2 separate regions of the Homo sapiens genome follow, and region 2 is linked to region 1. A link means that fine-mapping ties the variant in region 1 to the expression of a gene that starts in the linked region. Tissue or cell type: whole blood. Region 1 holds a variant in brackets; the other region holds the start of a gene. All regions are shown on one strand. Distances are from middle to middle.

The links. PIP is the estimated chance that this variant, and not a neighbour inherited with it, causes the effect.
Region 2: it holds the start of ZNF655, and the variant in region 1 is fine-mapped to the expression of ZNF655 in whole blood (TOPMed, PIP above 0.99).

The regions. Positions count from the first base shown.
Region 1 is chr7:99,918,695-99,926,796 of GRCh38, forward strand. It overlaps TRIM4 (tripartite motif containing 4), which reads right to left and starts at 836. Exons shown (of 6, transcript NM_033091.3): 1 at 315-836. The coding sequence starts at 707. It overlaps GJC3 (gap junction protein gamma 3), which reads right to left. Exons shown (of 2, transcript NM_181538.3): 2 at 4,572-4,909. The coding sequence ends at 4,851. It overlaps LOC101927610 (a long non-coding RNA gene), which reads left to right and starts at 909. Exons shown (of 2, transcript XR_001745296.3): 1 at 909-1,133; 2 at 2,490-6,620. RefSeq lists a silencer at 408-567 and enhancers at 698-747, 778-857, 1,098-1,207. The variant G/A (reference allele first, on the strand shown) is at 4,969.
Region 2 is chr7:99,554,476-99,562,577 of GRCh38, forward strand. ZNF655 (zinc finger protein 655) reads left to right here and starts at 4,167. Exons shown (of 3, transcript NM_138494.3): 1 at 4,167-4,312; 2 at 6,058-6,220. The coding sequence starts at 6,085. It overlaps LOC105375422 (a long non-coding RNA gene), which reads left to right. Exons shown (of 3, transcript XR_927801.4): 3 at 261-1,482. It also overlaps a transcript of FAM200A not described here. RefSeq lists enhancers at 3,812-3,941, 3,972-4,241.

The DNA.
Region 1 (8,102 bases):
TTACATATGTGGTTTCTATTGGACAGCAGCGGCACACACCCTCTCAGTATGTTTTTCTTTATTATGAGCTCCCCAAGGGCCAGTTTATTGAAAATTCTGCACAATGATTGCTGAGGTTTGCACCTCCCCTCCTCTCATTCCAGTTTTAACCCTAGCTCTGAAATTCGTGTTTTGCTTAACTTCTTTGAGTTTCAGGGGCTTTTCATGCTTCCAGTAGGAATGACAGCCACTTCGTGGCTCTTTTAGGAGCATTAAGTAAACTTTATCGGGCAACACTGACAGCCCCGTCATAGTCACCGCGACGGCCAGCTCACCCGGTAGCTCTCGAAGGCCTCGTCGATGGGTGCCATGGCGTGAGTCTGGTGCTCCTGGGACTCCCTGCACACCAGGCACACTGGCCGCTGGTCGTCCTCGCAGAAGAGCCGCAGCGGCTCCCAGTGGCGGCCGCACAGGCCCGGGGGCACGGGGCCCAGGCGCCGGCGCTGCGTCTTCTCAGTCAGCCTGGCCAGGGCCCAGTTGGGTCGCAGCGCGGCGGGCGCCGATGGGTGCCGACATTCGGGGCAGGGGAACGGGCCGCCGCCCGGCGCCCAGTTGCGGTGCAGGCAGCCGCGGCAGAAGTTGTGGCCGCACTCGATGGACACCGGGTCCTGGAAATAGTCCAGGCAGATGGGGCAGGTCAACTCCTCCTGGATGTCCTCAGCTTCCATGCTGCTTCCCTGCCGCGGAGACGGAGTCCGACGTGAGGCGCGGGAGAGGCCAGCAAGCTGCGAGCGGCCGCGGGGAGGCCAGACGACTTCCGAACCGCCGTCACCGCCTCACGTAAAAGGGTACAACGCAGTTTCTCTTCCGGGGTTCAGGACCCAAAAAGAACGCACGGACGTTGCCCGGCCTGAGCGCGCAAGACCGGAAGCTGCTGGGTATCCGCGCCGGAACCGCGAGGGGGTTGGTTCAGGCCTAGGCGCGGGGCAGGACGGGACCGGTGAGTGGCTCCTCCAAACAGCTATAGAGACCCAGAAATGCCTGTGGAAAGCTACAGAGGACTTGGGCAAGGCGTTAGAGCCGGACGTTGTGGTCCCTGGGGGAGCCAACCGGGGAGGTGCCTATGATCTTTCTTTCCAAGTTTGAGGGTTCAGGTCTGTGTTCGCCTGCTGGTTAGACCGATTTAAGTTTTAGAGTCCCAGGAGTTCTGGGCGAGCTGCAGCCTAGGGGCCTGGAAGGCCAGGAAGACTTGAAGGATCTGTGTTGGTAGGCCTGGAGTTTGGCTAACGTGGGGATGATTTGGATTCTGAGATGCAGATACATTGCCTTTTTGGTATCCAATTTGAAAAGTAGCAACCATTTTGCTATCCCAAAGAACATCCATGGAGGCTTTCAACAAATAATATGCTCACCTGTTTCAGGGAATTATCTATATCCCTTAAGTGGATTTTCGATCTTGTGTTTCTGAGGTGCTTTGCTTTTTATTCTTCCCACTTTCTTCCTTTTCTTGTGAATATTTGTTTAAAACAAAAAAAACTCTGGACTGACAAATTTAATAGAAGCTATTTGCACAAAGAACAGTTCATGAATTGGGCAGCACTCAGAACCAAAAGAGGTTCAGAGAGCTCTGTCCAGCAGTATGACCTGCTAGCTTTTATAGGAAGCAAAGTAGAGAAATCACCTCATTAGCTAACATCTAGGTGTCTGCCTTATTTGACAATGATATGATGAGGCATTTGCCTTATTGGGGCATGGTCTGATCAGTTGGCTGTCTGTTATTTGCTGAAGCTCGGCCGTGATTGGCTGAAACCCAGCTGTTATAAAAAATAAAGTAAGTTAGGCTTCAGTTCGTTTACATACTAAGTCAGGTTGTATTTTGTTATATGGGAACTCAAGTACCAAGACAGCCTCAGGCTAATGGGCTTTTGCTTATTTAACAGATTTTTCATTCTTTTTATGTCCCAATATCAAATACTGCCTTTCCTATAATAATTTTTCTCAGTAAGTAGTATGATTAAATGATTAGAAAAAGGGGTTCTTGAGGTATCTGTTTGGGGGTTATTGATGAAAGTTCCACTGAATATTTCTAAAACATTTAAATTGGACAACTAATGAATGGATTTTCTTTGCAAATTGGAATACTCTATGGAGAAGGGATCTGGTTCTTTAATAGGGACCAAGCAGGAAGGAATGCTCTTAACAGTTACTGATGTTTACCATGAGTGTTTATGGCATCTGTGTGTCTATATGTTTACCTAAGTATTGAATGAGAAGTTTCAGCATTCCTGCAAAGTATTTATTCCCCTTACAGTAGTCATTTAAATCTTTTCAGGTAAATCCCTTAAAATCCTTATGTCTTTATTCCTGCCATACCAGAGATGACCTTCCTTCTTTACTAAGTGAGGCTCCCTAATTAACAATTTTTCTCCATCACAAAATGTCTATAAGTCTGTATACCAGCCAAGGTTCATTCAGAGAAGTGGAATCACTATGTTTCTTTATGTTCGCAGGGCAAGCAGTTAAGAAGGGAAGATGAACATAAAGTAGGGAAGAGCAAAAATGAGTTGGAACCTAAGACACGAGCTGGTCATTCTTTCACTGTCTCCAACTTTAAAGATATGAGTATCCTTGCTAGAGGAGCTGACACTTTTTGCCACAGGACTAGACACACACACAGCTCAGGAATCAAAAAAGGTGAAGGAAGACTCAGGGAAAAGCTTCTGCCCCATCCCAACAAGGTGAACCAGCTGATTGGTGACAAAGTAGATGAGCCGCAGTAGCACCTAGTGTCCCTGCACCACCGTTTCAAGTATAAAACTGGAGGGATGCTTCAGTTCTCCCCTTCAAGACTTACACAACCATGTCTCTGTTGGGCTATTCTAACCAGAAACAAAAGGAAAGGAAATTCTGGGAAACATAGTTTAGCTTAGCAAAGTTGATATATTACAAAATTACCACTGTCCACTCTGCATCGAGTTGACATCCATACAGACCTCTTTAAAACACACTTTCAAAATAAAGTCCACACCCTACACATAAGCTATCTCTAGAGAAATTTGAAGTCTGTTGTGCACTGAGGATAACCACAACAACAAACTGTAAACCTAGCCCAATTTCTGACTAGACTGATACCACCGAACCACTGCTATGCACTCAAGAGCACTAAAGGCCTAGCAGAAGGAAAGACACACTCATCTCCAAGCATAAAAACAATCTTTACTTCATACTGTGAAGAGAGAATTGAAAAAATAATTTAAGCAAAAAAAATACAACATGACTAACTTTTAACAGAAAGAAAAAAAGACGCATACAGAAAGGCAAGAAAAAACACAGTCCAAAGAGATAAAACAATCATTAGAACCAGATTCATAAGACATAGACATTAGAAATATGAGAGAATTTTAAATAACTGTGATTAATGTGATGAAGGCCCTAAGGGGAAAGGTGAACAAAATGCAAGCTCAGATGGGTGATTTTAGCAAATAGATGGAAACTATCAGGAAAAATAAAATGGAAACTATAAAAATAAAAAATATAATAATAGAGATGAAGAATGCCCTCCATGGGCCCATTAGGAGACTGAACACAGTTGAGGAAAAAATCAGACTTGAAGGTAGGTAAATAGAAATTGCTGAAACACACACACACACACACACAAAAAGAGTGACAGAAACAGAACACAGCATCCAAGACTGGTGGGAAAATATCAACATCAAATCAAGAAATAGGCGCAGTGGCTCACCCCTGTAATCCCAGCACTTGGGGAGGCCGAGGCAGGCAGATCACGAGGTCAGGAGATCGAGACCATCCTAGCTAACGCAGTGAAACCCCGTCTCTACTAAAAATTCAAAAAAATTAGCCGGGCATGGTAGCAGGCACCTGTCGTCCCAGCTACTCGGGAGGCTGAGGTAAGAGAATTGCGTGAACCCGGGAGGCGGAGCTTGCAGTGAGCTGAGATCACACCACTGCACTCCAGCCTGGGCGACAGAGCAAGACTCTATCTCAAAAAAAAAAAAAAAATCAAGAAATAATGGCTGAGAATTTCCAAAATTTGTAAGACACCAAACCAATCCAAGGAGCTCAGAGAACACAGAGCAGGATAAATTCTTTAAAAAGAAACTAAGCTTATTGTATTCAAACTAAGCTTATTGTATTGATACCTGGTAGTTATAACTTACCAAATACACTGCCCAACATCTCCAGATGATCTATTATTTCTGAAAGTTTCCTTTATTACATTTCTTACTTCAGGGAGATATAGCCTTCGCTTCATGTTATGGTTGGTGCAGTCAGTATTCTCAGAAAGAAAGTACTGGTTCCATTTTACCTCCATCTTTTGTTTCCTGTCAGAAAACCTACCATACCACCAAGTACTCCTTCTCTACACTGCCTCTGATATTTAAGTAATTTGAGAATTCTGTTGAGACTATCTCCCTTTTTTGGTATGATGAATCTGGTCCTAAATTGCATGCCAAAGACTTTGAGAACTAAACTGTAGACCCAGATCTCATGTCCCAGACTGGCCTTTTGTTACCCACACAATGAATGGGTTAAATTGCTTGGCAGGGGACAGTCCAATGACCACAACCAAGGAGGATTTCCCAGGGGGATTTTATTACTTGCGATAAGTAAGGAGGACACTGGGAATAATTCCCCAAAGCAATGCCTCCCTGAGCAATGGTGCAAACATGGCTTTTATTAGTCTGGTTAGCTGAGTCATTGTATGTAGAGGTGGAGTCAAGGCAGCGCAGTCCCAGTTGTCGGTTATGCTGCTACATATGTCACATGTATAGAAAATGGTGAATAAGCTCCTCCTTGGACAGGATTTTAAGTATGGTGATGAGGAAAGTTGGCCAAAGTTCATCTCCAACTCAGGCATCTCTGGGTCCAACTGGTCTTTGTTTTTCCTGGGCTAAGCTTCTTCCTGGAACTTTTTAAAACAAAAATTCAAGATGTAACAGTTACAAGTGTGTAACTTTTTCACAGTGC[G/A]TACCCAAAACCCAAGGACCCTGGGTTACACTTTAGGTGCCACCCATGTGGGACCTATCAGAAGAGTACTACAAAGGCTTTGAAAACTGAACTGACATTGGAACCACAACCCTCAGAAGGCTGGTCAAAACTTATGACTTGAACCCAAATGGGTTAATTACCCTTTAAAACATAAATATCAACATCCTCCACCAAATTTAACCAAGACCCAGAGCATCCTAATGACATTCAAAATGTCCAGGATACAATCGATATTAATTGGCAGGTGAAGAACCAGGAAAATCTCAACTCACGTTGGGAAAAAATGTAACAGATGCAGAATGTAAGTTGCCACACATGTTGGAATTATCAAGACTATAAAGCTGCTATTCAAATGGAAAGTTTAAAAGTCTCAGAGAAGTAATAGAAAATACAAAGAATAGCCCCATGGAAATTTTAGAACGGGAAAATACAAAAACCGTCATCACATCATATCCGGGGCACATGCTGTCAACATTGCTCATCACTGTTGATGTTAACCTTGATCACCCGGCTGAGGTAGTATTTGATGGGTTTCTCCCTGTAAAGTTATTCTTTCCCCTCCCCCTATTTTACTGTTTAGTGGGAAGTCACTATGTGCAGCCCATGCCTAAAAAGGGAGTAGTTGGTGGGCACGGTGGCTCACGCCTGTAATCCCAGCACTTTGGGAGGCTGAGTGGGTGGATCACCTGAGGTCAGGAGTTCGAGACCAGCTTGGCCGACATGGTGAAACCCCGTCTCTGCTAAAAATACAAAAATTAGCCAGGCATGGTGGTGCACGCCTGTAATCCCAGCTATTCAGGAGGCTGAGGCAGGAGAACTGCTTGAACCTGGGAGGCAGAGATTGCAGTGATCCTGCCATTGCACTCCAGCCTGGGCGATGAGCAAAATTCCATCTCAAAAGAAAAAAAAGTGAGTAGTTATATTTCCCCTCCTTGCGGTGGAGTATCTACATTCTTCTGCATGAGAAATTTGTCAGTTATCTCCTATTTATTCAATTATTTATATTATGAATTCATGGATTCCTATTTTATACTTTGGGTATAATCCAATACTATGTTGTTTATTTTACTGCTCAGATTATTCCTGTGTTGGCCATTGGGAACTTTTTCAGTTGACATCTGTGTCCCTTTGACAAACTCCTGTCATTTTGTGGGGAAGAGGGAGTAGCACTTTCTTACTTTCTACCGCTACAAAATCCTCCAGTCTTATCTTGTATTTCTCTTCCCTAACCCTAAAGTCAATCATTCTCATTTCTCTAATGATAAATGATGTTAAACATCTTTTCATATGCTTTCTTATTATCTGTATATCTTCTCTGATGATTACCAAGGATGGGAAGGGTAGTAGGGGGAAAGTGGAGATGGTTAATGGGTACAAAAAATAGAATGAATAAGAATTAGTAGTTGATAGCACAACAGGGTGATTACAGTCAAAAATAATTGTACATTATAAAATAACTAGTATAATTGGATTATTTATAACAAAGGCTGAAGGCTTGAGGTGATAAATACCCCATTTACCCTGATGTGACTATTACACATTGCATACCTGTATCAAAATACCTTGTATACCCCATAAATATATAACCTACTATGTACCCATTTAAATAAAAAAAGTTTTTAAAAAAGAAATAGTGCTGAGACAATTGAATATCCACATGCAAAAGATAAAGTTTGACATTTATCTTACACCATACACAAAAATTAACTCAAAACCAACCAGAGACCTAAATGTAAGAGCTGAAACTATACAACTCTTATGGAAACATAGGCATTAATCTTTATGGCTGTGAATTAGGCAATAGTTTCTTAGGTAATACACAAAAATCATAAGCAACAAAAGAAAAAATTGGATGTTAGACTTCATTAAAATTTAAAACTTTTGTGCATCACTATCAAGAAAGTGAAAGACAATCATAGAATGGGAGAAGATATTTGGAAATCATACATACAATAAGTATCTAATACCCACAATATATAAAGAGCTCTTACAATGCAACAACAAAAATACAAAAAACTCTATTTATAAATGGGAAAAGGATTTGAATAGACATTTCTCCAAAGAAGATATACAAATAACCACTAAGCACATGGAAAATGTTCAATGTAATTAGCCATTAGGCAAGTGCAAATCAAAACTACAATGAGATACCACTTCACACCCACTAGGATGGCTAGAATTTAATAGATAAATAAAAAGTATTCCCACATTGCTGGTAGGAATGTAAAAATAGTGCAGCTGCTGTGGAAAAGAGTTTGGCAGTTCCTCAAAAGTTGAAACGTGGAGTTTCCTTATGACCCAGACATTCTATTCCTGGTTATTTATGCAAGAGAACTGACAACATGTGTTTACACAACACTAAAACTGGGGCCAGGTGTGGTGGCTCAGGACTGTTGTTCCAGCACTTTGGGAAGCTGAGGCAGGCAGATAACCTGAGGTCAGGAGTTTGAGACCAGCCTGGCCAACATGGCAAAACCCTGTCTCTACAAAAAATACAAAAATTAGCTGGGTGTGGTGGTGCGCACCTGTAGTCCCAGGTACTCAGGACGCTGAAGCAGGAGAATCGCTTGAACCCAGGAAGTGGAGGTTGCAATAAGCCAAGATCACACCACTGCACTCCAGTCTGGGTGACAGAGTGAGACTCCATCCCAAAAAAAAAAAAAAAAGTGGTACACATATGTTCATAGCAACAGTGGTCATAAGAGCCAAAAAATGGAAACAACCCAAATGTCCTGAAACTGAAGAATGTATAAACAAAATGTGGTATCTCCTTAAACAAAATGTGGTATATCCTAACAGTGGAATAACACTCAACCATATAAAGGAATGTAATACTGAAACATGCCACAACATGAATGAACCTCAAGTTATGCTCAGTGAAAGAAGCCAGACATGAAAGACCACATATTGCATGATTCCATTTGTATGAAAGAGTAGGAAAACCAATAGAGACAAAACCATATGATGGTTGCATGTTTTGGGTGCTAATAAGAGTTTGAGAGTAACATGAGGGGGTAGGGTTTTTTTAAGTTGATGAAAATGTTATTAAATTGGTAGTGTTGATGGATATACAACTCTGAATATACTAAAGGCTATTTAATTGTATACTTTTG
Region 2 (8,102 bases), 360 kb before region 1:
CTCAAAAAAAAAAAAAAAAAAAAAAGAAAAATAAGAGGTAGCCCATATTGTTGGGACCACGCACAGCCTCTATCCCTGCTACCATGGTCTCTGTTCATAAGCCTATTGCATAAACAATAAGATGGTCCCTAACCAACAAGCCAAGCCATTCATCACTGCCTAGGAGTCAATGCATATCCCTACCTTAGGCTACCTCCTCCAAAATATGGCATGGGTGACCAAATGTACCATTGCTCACTGAGATAATTTTTCTTCACCAGTATGCTTCAGGGCAACGCGAGTGGGGCTGTAATGAAGAACAGTCTGTTTCTGGAAGATGCCAACATGCTGAACTGACCCAATCCCCAATCTGTGCAGAGGCCAAGGCTCTTCTGTCTCCATCAGTTAGTTGTAGGGAACTTTTATAAGGCCATAGGAGTAAGTTTATGGGAGAGGTGGCAGTAGAGCAGAGGTAACTGACCTGGGAGTTTGGAAACGTGGGTTTTGTTTTTTTGCCTTAGAAGGCATGACCTTGCTCCAGAATCTTAGGTATTTGTGCTGTGACTCTTTATGATGGGTTGAATTGTACCTCCACCTCATCCCCAATTAACAGGTTGAAGTTCTAGCCCCTAATACCTCAGAATGTGAAATTATTTGGCAATAGAGGCATTGCAGATGTAATTACTTCAAGATGAGGTCATAGTGGATTAGGGTGGGTCCCTCATCTAATGACTGGTATCCTTATAAAAAAGGGAAGTTTAGAGATAGTACACAGGGAGAATGCCAAATGAAGATGAGGGTAAAGACTGGGAAAATGCTTCTTACGATGCCAAGGAATGCAAAATATATCCAGCAAATCCCCAGAAACTAGGAGAGAGGCATGGACAGATTCCTTCTCACAGCCTCAATAGGAACCACACCTTAATTTCTGACTTCTAGCCTCCAGACTGTGAACCAACAGATTTCTGTTGTTTAAGCCACCCAGTTTGTGGTACTTTGTTATAGGAGCCCTAGCACACGAATGCACACTCTTATTGGGGTTTGCCAGCAACTCCATACAGCACCTGTATCCATCAAGGATATTTCTGGAACCACTGAATTTGCAAGTAAGCTTGCACTGTTGCTTGGATTTACTATAGAGTGCTCTCTTGCCCCAATAAAAAGTGGAAGCTGGCCAGGCATGGTGGCTCACGTCTGTAATCCCAGCACTTTGGGAGGCGGAGGTGGGTGGATTGCTTGAGGTCAGGAGTTCAAGATCAGCCTGGCTAACATGGTGAAACCCCTCCACTACTAAAATACAAAAATGCTGGGCATGGTGGCGGGCGCCTGTAATCCCAGCTACTAGGGAGGCTGAGGCAGGAGAATTGCTTGAATCCAGAAAGCAGAGGTTGCAGTGAGCCGAGATCACGGCACTGTACTCCAGCCTGGGCTACAGAGCAAGACTCCGTGTCAAGAAAAAAAAATAGTAATAAATAAAAAGTGGAAGCTTTTTAGGTCACCTAATACATGTGTTGGAACAGTTTTCTCAGGTGCAGAATATGCTACCTCCCAAATCCAAAGGGGCCCACCAGGACCTGTACCAATTTTTTTGGGATTAGAGGGTGCAAGGTGGAACAACTTTCTTTTACCTTTGGGTGATGTCCCCAAACCACTGGGCCCCACCAAAACTTCATCCATTTGATAAGTGCCCATATCTTCAGGTTTCTGTACTGCCTTAGTAAGAAGTCTTACTAGGATATTTATGACCCTTGTCACTTGCTGCTCACTGGGTACTACTAGCATTTGTCATCAATATATGGACCATCATGATGGTTGGGTAAAGTTCCTGCGGACTACACTGTGACAGAGAACAGGTCTCAGGATCCCACCCTCTCCCTGTATGAGCCACGACTTTGACTCAGGGGACCTGCCGAGTCTGCACAATTGGTCTCCTTTACATTACTGTCACTGTTACAAACAGATCCTCGGCCTAATTTTCAGCTTAGCTAGATGCAGAATTACCTTAGTAATTTATAAAAAATCAGCTATTGTATGTATCTAGATCTATTTCTGGACTTTTTTTTCTTTAAGAAATTCAACCTCATATTTCTGGACTTTCTGTTCTGCTCTGTTGATCTATTTGTCTCTATGCTGATACCATACCATCCTGATTACTGTACCTTTAGGAAAAAAATCTTAAAAAAATACAAGTATTCCAATTTTATTCTTTTTCAAAATTGTTTTGGCAATCCTAAATCCTTAGCATTTCTATATAAACTTTAGAATCAGTTTGTTAATTTGCACTAAAAAAAACAAAACAGGCTCGGTGCAGTGGCTCACGCCTGTAATCCCAGCACTTTGGGAGGCCAAGACGGGCGGATCACCCGAGGTCAGGAGTTTGAGACCAGCCTGGCCAACATGGTGAAACCCCATCTCTACTAAAAATACAAAAATTAGCTAGGTGTGGTGGTGCCCACCTGTAATCCCATCTACTCTGGAGGCTGAGGCAGGGAAAATGCTTGAACCTGGGAGCTGGAGGTTGCAGTGAGCTGAGATCGCGCCACTGCACTCCAGCCTGGGCGACAGAGCAAGACTCTGTCTCAACAACAACAAAAAGACAAAAACGAAAAAAGGTAACAATTTTTTGAGTTGTTTCCACCTCTGTCATCTGGCAAACTGTTAAAAGAAAATTTTGCTCAAAAGCAAAATAGCAGCTGCTGTTTCTTAACACTTTGTTATGTTTTGATGAGTACTGGTGGGAAGTGGCCTCTTTAAGTGGGTACCTTTTGTGGTCCTCTCACTGGAGCCAATTGCCTGAGTCAGCTAAAACTTGGACGCGATGTGCCTCACTGCCATAGCTCACTCACCTTTGCTGCTGAAATGGTTTCCCATCACATTGCTAATAGGTACAACCTGTGAAGGGTTCTAGGTGGGGAAATGGCAACTCAGGAAGAACTCCAAACCTTTAGCTCTCCTAGGATATTAAAATGGCCGTTATGAAGAGGAAGAAGTACTGTGTCATCTATTGTCCTGGGGACCTGTCAACAGGAACAATAGATAGACATCACCAGGGGTGTATTTCTGTTCAACACAAGGAAAAGTTTCTAATTGGAGCTGTCCAGCATGAAATGGACTAAGCAGTGCATTTTCTTTCTCCGATCCTGACTCCACTGTGACGGGCACTGCAGACTAGAGAGATTGTGTCCTAGTATGAATTTAGGTTGGATAAATGATACTTAGGGATAAAGAGAGGAAAGGAATATCAGAATCTCCAAGAAGCTGATACATTTTGAAAAAATATATAAAATGCCACACTTCAGGTTTTCTTGTGTTTAATTTGAAACGTCCAGTAACATTAAAGAACAGCATTTGATTTGCTTAAACAAAGTAGTAACAGCTGAAGTTCCTTCCAAATCACTTTTCTGATTCTCTAAGAGGCTTGCCTATGCCTTGCAGATCTAGCTTCACCTACAAGACATATTCTGTAAGGATCCAGGTTCAGCAAGGTGTCAGAATGTCCTAAGGGTTTCTGTCCCGGCGCTCTGCCTGTCCCGCTTGTGCACAATGCTTTTGCCTATCCCTGTTTCTGCATAGATTTTAGTCTTCCCACCAGGGACGCAACTGTCAGTTTCCTCCGTCTCTCTCGGTTCTATTCCAATCTGCTCATCTCCCCTCCCGTCCCCGCTTTCCCCAAGGACCTACTGAGATTTCGATCCCACAACTTAGTGGGTCCCATCTCACCCAGGCCCCGCAATCCTCGCCTTCTACTTGTCAGCGTTGTACTACACTCTGAGCAGGCACCCCTGTGCTACTCACGGAAGCGGGACCATTAGGTCGGCCATTCCTCCTCACCCCACGACACGCACCCACTGGGTCGGGCCGCCTCCTTGCAGGGAGTCTCAAGGATGGGCTGGCGTCAGGGAGGGGCCCAGGGGGCGCTTTCCCAACACTGGTCGCAGTCATTGTTGGTATAACGGCTAGAGACGCCCAGTGAGTTAGCATGGAGGGCAGTGGGACCGGAAAAAGACGTGGAAAAGCTGCGAAAACGAGCCTTCGAATCATGGACGCGCGGGCCCAGCTCCTCCTCCGAGTTCCTCATCCGGGGCCGTCACTCACATCCGGGGCCCTCACTCACATCCGGGACCCTCATCCGGGGCTCTCACCCACATCCGGGACCCTCATGCCTGGGCGGAGGAGGGGGGGCCCTCATTCGGGACCCTGCACTCCGTCGCCGGAAGTGCCACCGAGAAGCGCCGGCCTCGGGGCTGTCTACAGCGGCCCGGGAGAGGCTGTGGTGGCCCCGAGCGCGAGTGTGTAGGTGACAGGACAGCGGCCAGGCCCGCCCCTCCCCTCGGTGAGTACCCGGAAGCCGTTTTGGGGTCGCAGCGGGGTGGCAGCTTGTTTTGCCTTCACGGGAGTAGAAGGAGGCGGCGTCCGGCCGCGGCCGACGGTAGTTCGCTTCCCCGAGAGTGCGCGGAGGCCCGGGTGCGAGGAGGGCCTGTTTCTCTTCAGCCCTGGTTCATTCACCTCGCGGACCGAGGGCCCCGCCGTCAGGAGCCGGCGACCGTGCCCTGGTGCGAGCTGGTCTGTATGTCCTCACTGGTCCTTTTGGGACTTTGCCTTGGCCTAAAAGGGAAGTGGGAGGAGGGCAGCGCCGGGCAAGGCCTTCTGAGGACCGAGCTGGGAGCCGGGCAGGGGCCCAGGGCGAGGGTGGTGGGAGGGGGACGGCACCCTCATGCGTCCTTGGGCCTGAAGGACGCCGCTCAAACCTGTTCGAACCGCAGCTCTTACCTGCGTTGCTCTCAGGATTCCGGGAAAAGGCCGGTCTAGCTGGTCTGAGTTAGCGAAGGGCCTGACCCCAAAAGTGGAGTTTTATTCGCCAAGCCCGTGTAGTAAATCGGAGTGGGCTGACGGTGTTACCAAGACATTTCCTAGGGGGCCTGCTGTTTTATTTATTTAAATGAGTTTATTTACGTAAACGCGGGCCTGTCACGGTGGTTCACGCCGTAATCCCCGCACTTTGGGAGGCCGAAGTGGGAGGATCGCTTGAGGCCAGGCGTTCGAGTCCAGCCTGGGCAACATAGCGAGACTCCCATCTCTGCTAAAACAAAATTAAAATAAAATGAGCAATCATAACTAGCATTTTTCTCTGGGCACCAACTTGAGCCTCCAAAGACGATTGTAAATTTTAAATATTTTGTTTTGTTTATTTGAGGTGGGCTGTCACGCTGTCATACAGGCTGGAATGCAGTGGCGCAGTCATAGCTCACTGCAGCCTCTACCTCCCAAGCTCAAGCGATTCTCCTGCCTTGGCCTTTGGAGTAGCTGGAACTACAGGCCTGGGCCACCTAATTTTTTTTTTTTTTTTTTTTTTTGTAGGGACGGGGTTTCACCATGTTGTCCAGGACGGTCTGGAACTCCTGAGCTTAAGGGATCCACCCGTCTGTGCCTCCCAAACTGTTGGGATTACAGGCTTGAGCCACCGCACGTGGCCAATTTTAAATATTTTAAAGTTTCCACAGAAAGCTTTACACTATTAAATTGTACCGTGTTAATTTTTTTAATGCCACAAATTCCAAATTAGAGACTCTTCTATGATTTGGTTCTTAAGTATTTAAAGCTGAAGCATATCCATATTTCTTTTTCTTTTTTTTCTTTTTTTTTTTTTTGGGACGGAGTCTCACTGTGTTGCCCAGGTTGGAGTGCAGTGGTGCAATCTTGGCTCACTGCCACGTATGCCTTCTGTATTCAAGCAATTCTCCTGCCTCAGCCTCCCGAATAGCTGGGATTACAGACCCGCACCACCACGCTGGCTAATTTTTGTATTTTTAGTAGAGAAGAAGTTGCACCATGTTGATCAGGCTGGTCTTGAACTCCTGACCTCAAGTGATCTTCCCGCCTCAGCCTCCCAAAGTGCTGGGATTACAGGCCACTGCGCCTGGCCCCATTTTTCTGTTACTTATTTAGGGTGGTTAATCATTATCAACTAATTTTTATTGAATATCCATAGTGTGTAAGATCCTTTGCAAAGTCCTGACGATATAAAATGATGAAATGCTTTAACTTATTACAGTAATTTCTCTTAATCTTACCTTGCAGTGATGGTCATTGTCCTCCAGAGCAGTGATGGAGGAAATACCAGCCCAGGAAGCAGCAGGGTCACCAAGGGTCCAGTTTCAGTCTTTGGAGACCCAGTCTGAGTGTCTGTCCCCAGAGCCTCAGTTTGTGCAGGACACCGACATGGAACAGGGACTCACTGGGGGTAAGGCAGAGAAAGCACTTCCGTCTGGGAGAGTGGGAGTGCGGAGGGGCTCCCGAGGGGGCTCCTGGGCCTGGTTTGAGAGAGGCCAAGAACTGGAATAAGAACATGGTCCCTAGAGGGAGGAATGAAAGAGGGGGCAGATGTGACTCAGTTCAGTCCTAGTCTGAGCCCCTTTATTAAGGATAGCTCATCTTTCTCAAATAAGCAGAGTGATGGCTGCTTACTCGCTGTGGTGGTTTTTCCTTCAGGCAACCTTCACTTCATCCCAGTTCTCACATCCAGAATAATTTCTAAGATATGCTGCTTTTGCCACATCTCACAGTCCTTTCCTGGCTCTCACTTCCTCTTAGGTTCAGGACCTTTCTTTCCCCTGTTCCCTTCACTTAGTTTTTCTTTGCTTTGTCACCTGCCATCCATTCTGTTGTAACTGCAGTGTTTTGTGACTAGACTAAATTTGGTCAAGGAAGCAACCATTTAATTCCTTGGTTGAACACAATGCCTGTATGAATGTATATATACTGTATTTTGACTACGCAGTCACACTTTGCTGTATCGTATAGGTAGGTTGGTCTTTTTCTTCCTTTGTTTTATAAGAGCTGTGTCTTAGATTGCCTGTGGTTAACTCTAGTGCCTGAAATAACTTGTGTGTCACCCACACAGATCAAGTGCCACAATGTGTAGAGTGCTGTGGGGGATTGTGGGACTGTGGAAAAGATTTCGAGGAAACAGATGACCCTTTCTTGTTCTTGGGGGCCTTACACACTGGTTGAGACAGCACCCATTCACAAGAGAAACGCTGATCAAGTGTCTAGAACAGTGCCTGGAAAGGGTCAGAAGTCTGCTAAATAACCCTAGCCCAGGACAAGTCCCCACAAGTCTTTATGCTTTGCTTTGCCCATCTGCAAAACAGGTATAGTCTTACTCTTCTGTAAGAGGACTGTCATGTGATGAAGATAAAGTGAAATACAAGCTTTCCTAAGAAAATCCTGTATCACAGGTCAAAACACGCATAAGGCATGCAAGTACTGAGACGAAGCAGAGTAGACACACCCAATACCTGAAAAATGTTCATTGGTTTTACTAGAGTATTGAGGAGGGTCCTGCTGACACCCCTTGGGCTGGAGAGGCCTCCTCTGAAAGGGAGCCCTGGGAAAGGGCTGCTCTCACTCTTCACTCCTTTCTCCTCCCTCAGCTCCACCTGTTCCTCAGGTGCCTGCTCTTCCCCGTGAGGGAAGCCCAGGAGACCAGGCAGCTGCGCTCTTGACAGCCAGGTACCAGGTGAGCTGAGGAACCCTCTGCTTTTCCTCAGGGACTATTGCTACTGATGGAGTGTGGCCTCTCTCTCATCCCATCTGTAGACCTTGCCTGGAATTTTTTTCAATAGCAGACTCCAGTTTGGGAATTGATCCTCTTCGGAGACCTGGACTTCACATAAACCAACTTCCCATCTCCCCAGTGCCATGAGCAAACTCTGTTTTCTCTTTGTCCATGGTTGTGTGATGGGTGCTTATTAGATGTTTAAGGGTTATGGGCTTTATTCCGTAGGTTCTAATCTGTTCTCCCTCCTCCTCAACGTAAGTACACAGTGGATACCCTCTCTATGATCTTCATTCTCTGGCCATGGTGCTACAGTGTTCTCATTCCTCAGAGCAGCCAGGATGTGTTATTTCAGGAGTTTGTGACATTCGAGGATGTGGCTGTGCACCTTACTCGAGAGGAATGGGGATACCTGGACCCTGTTCAGAGGGACCTCTACAGAGAAGTGATGTTAGAGAATTATGGGAACGTGGTCTCACTGGGTAAGGACTTCCTTATTATTCGGTTTATCTATTTGAATTTCTTTACTTTCTTGTTTCTTCCTAAGTATAAGGTCTCTGAGAAG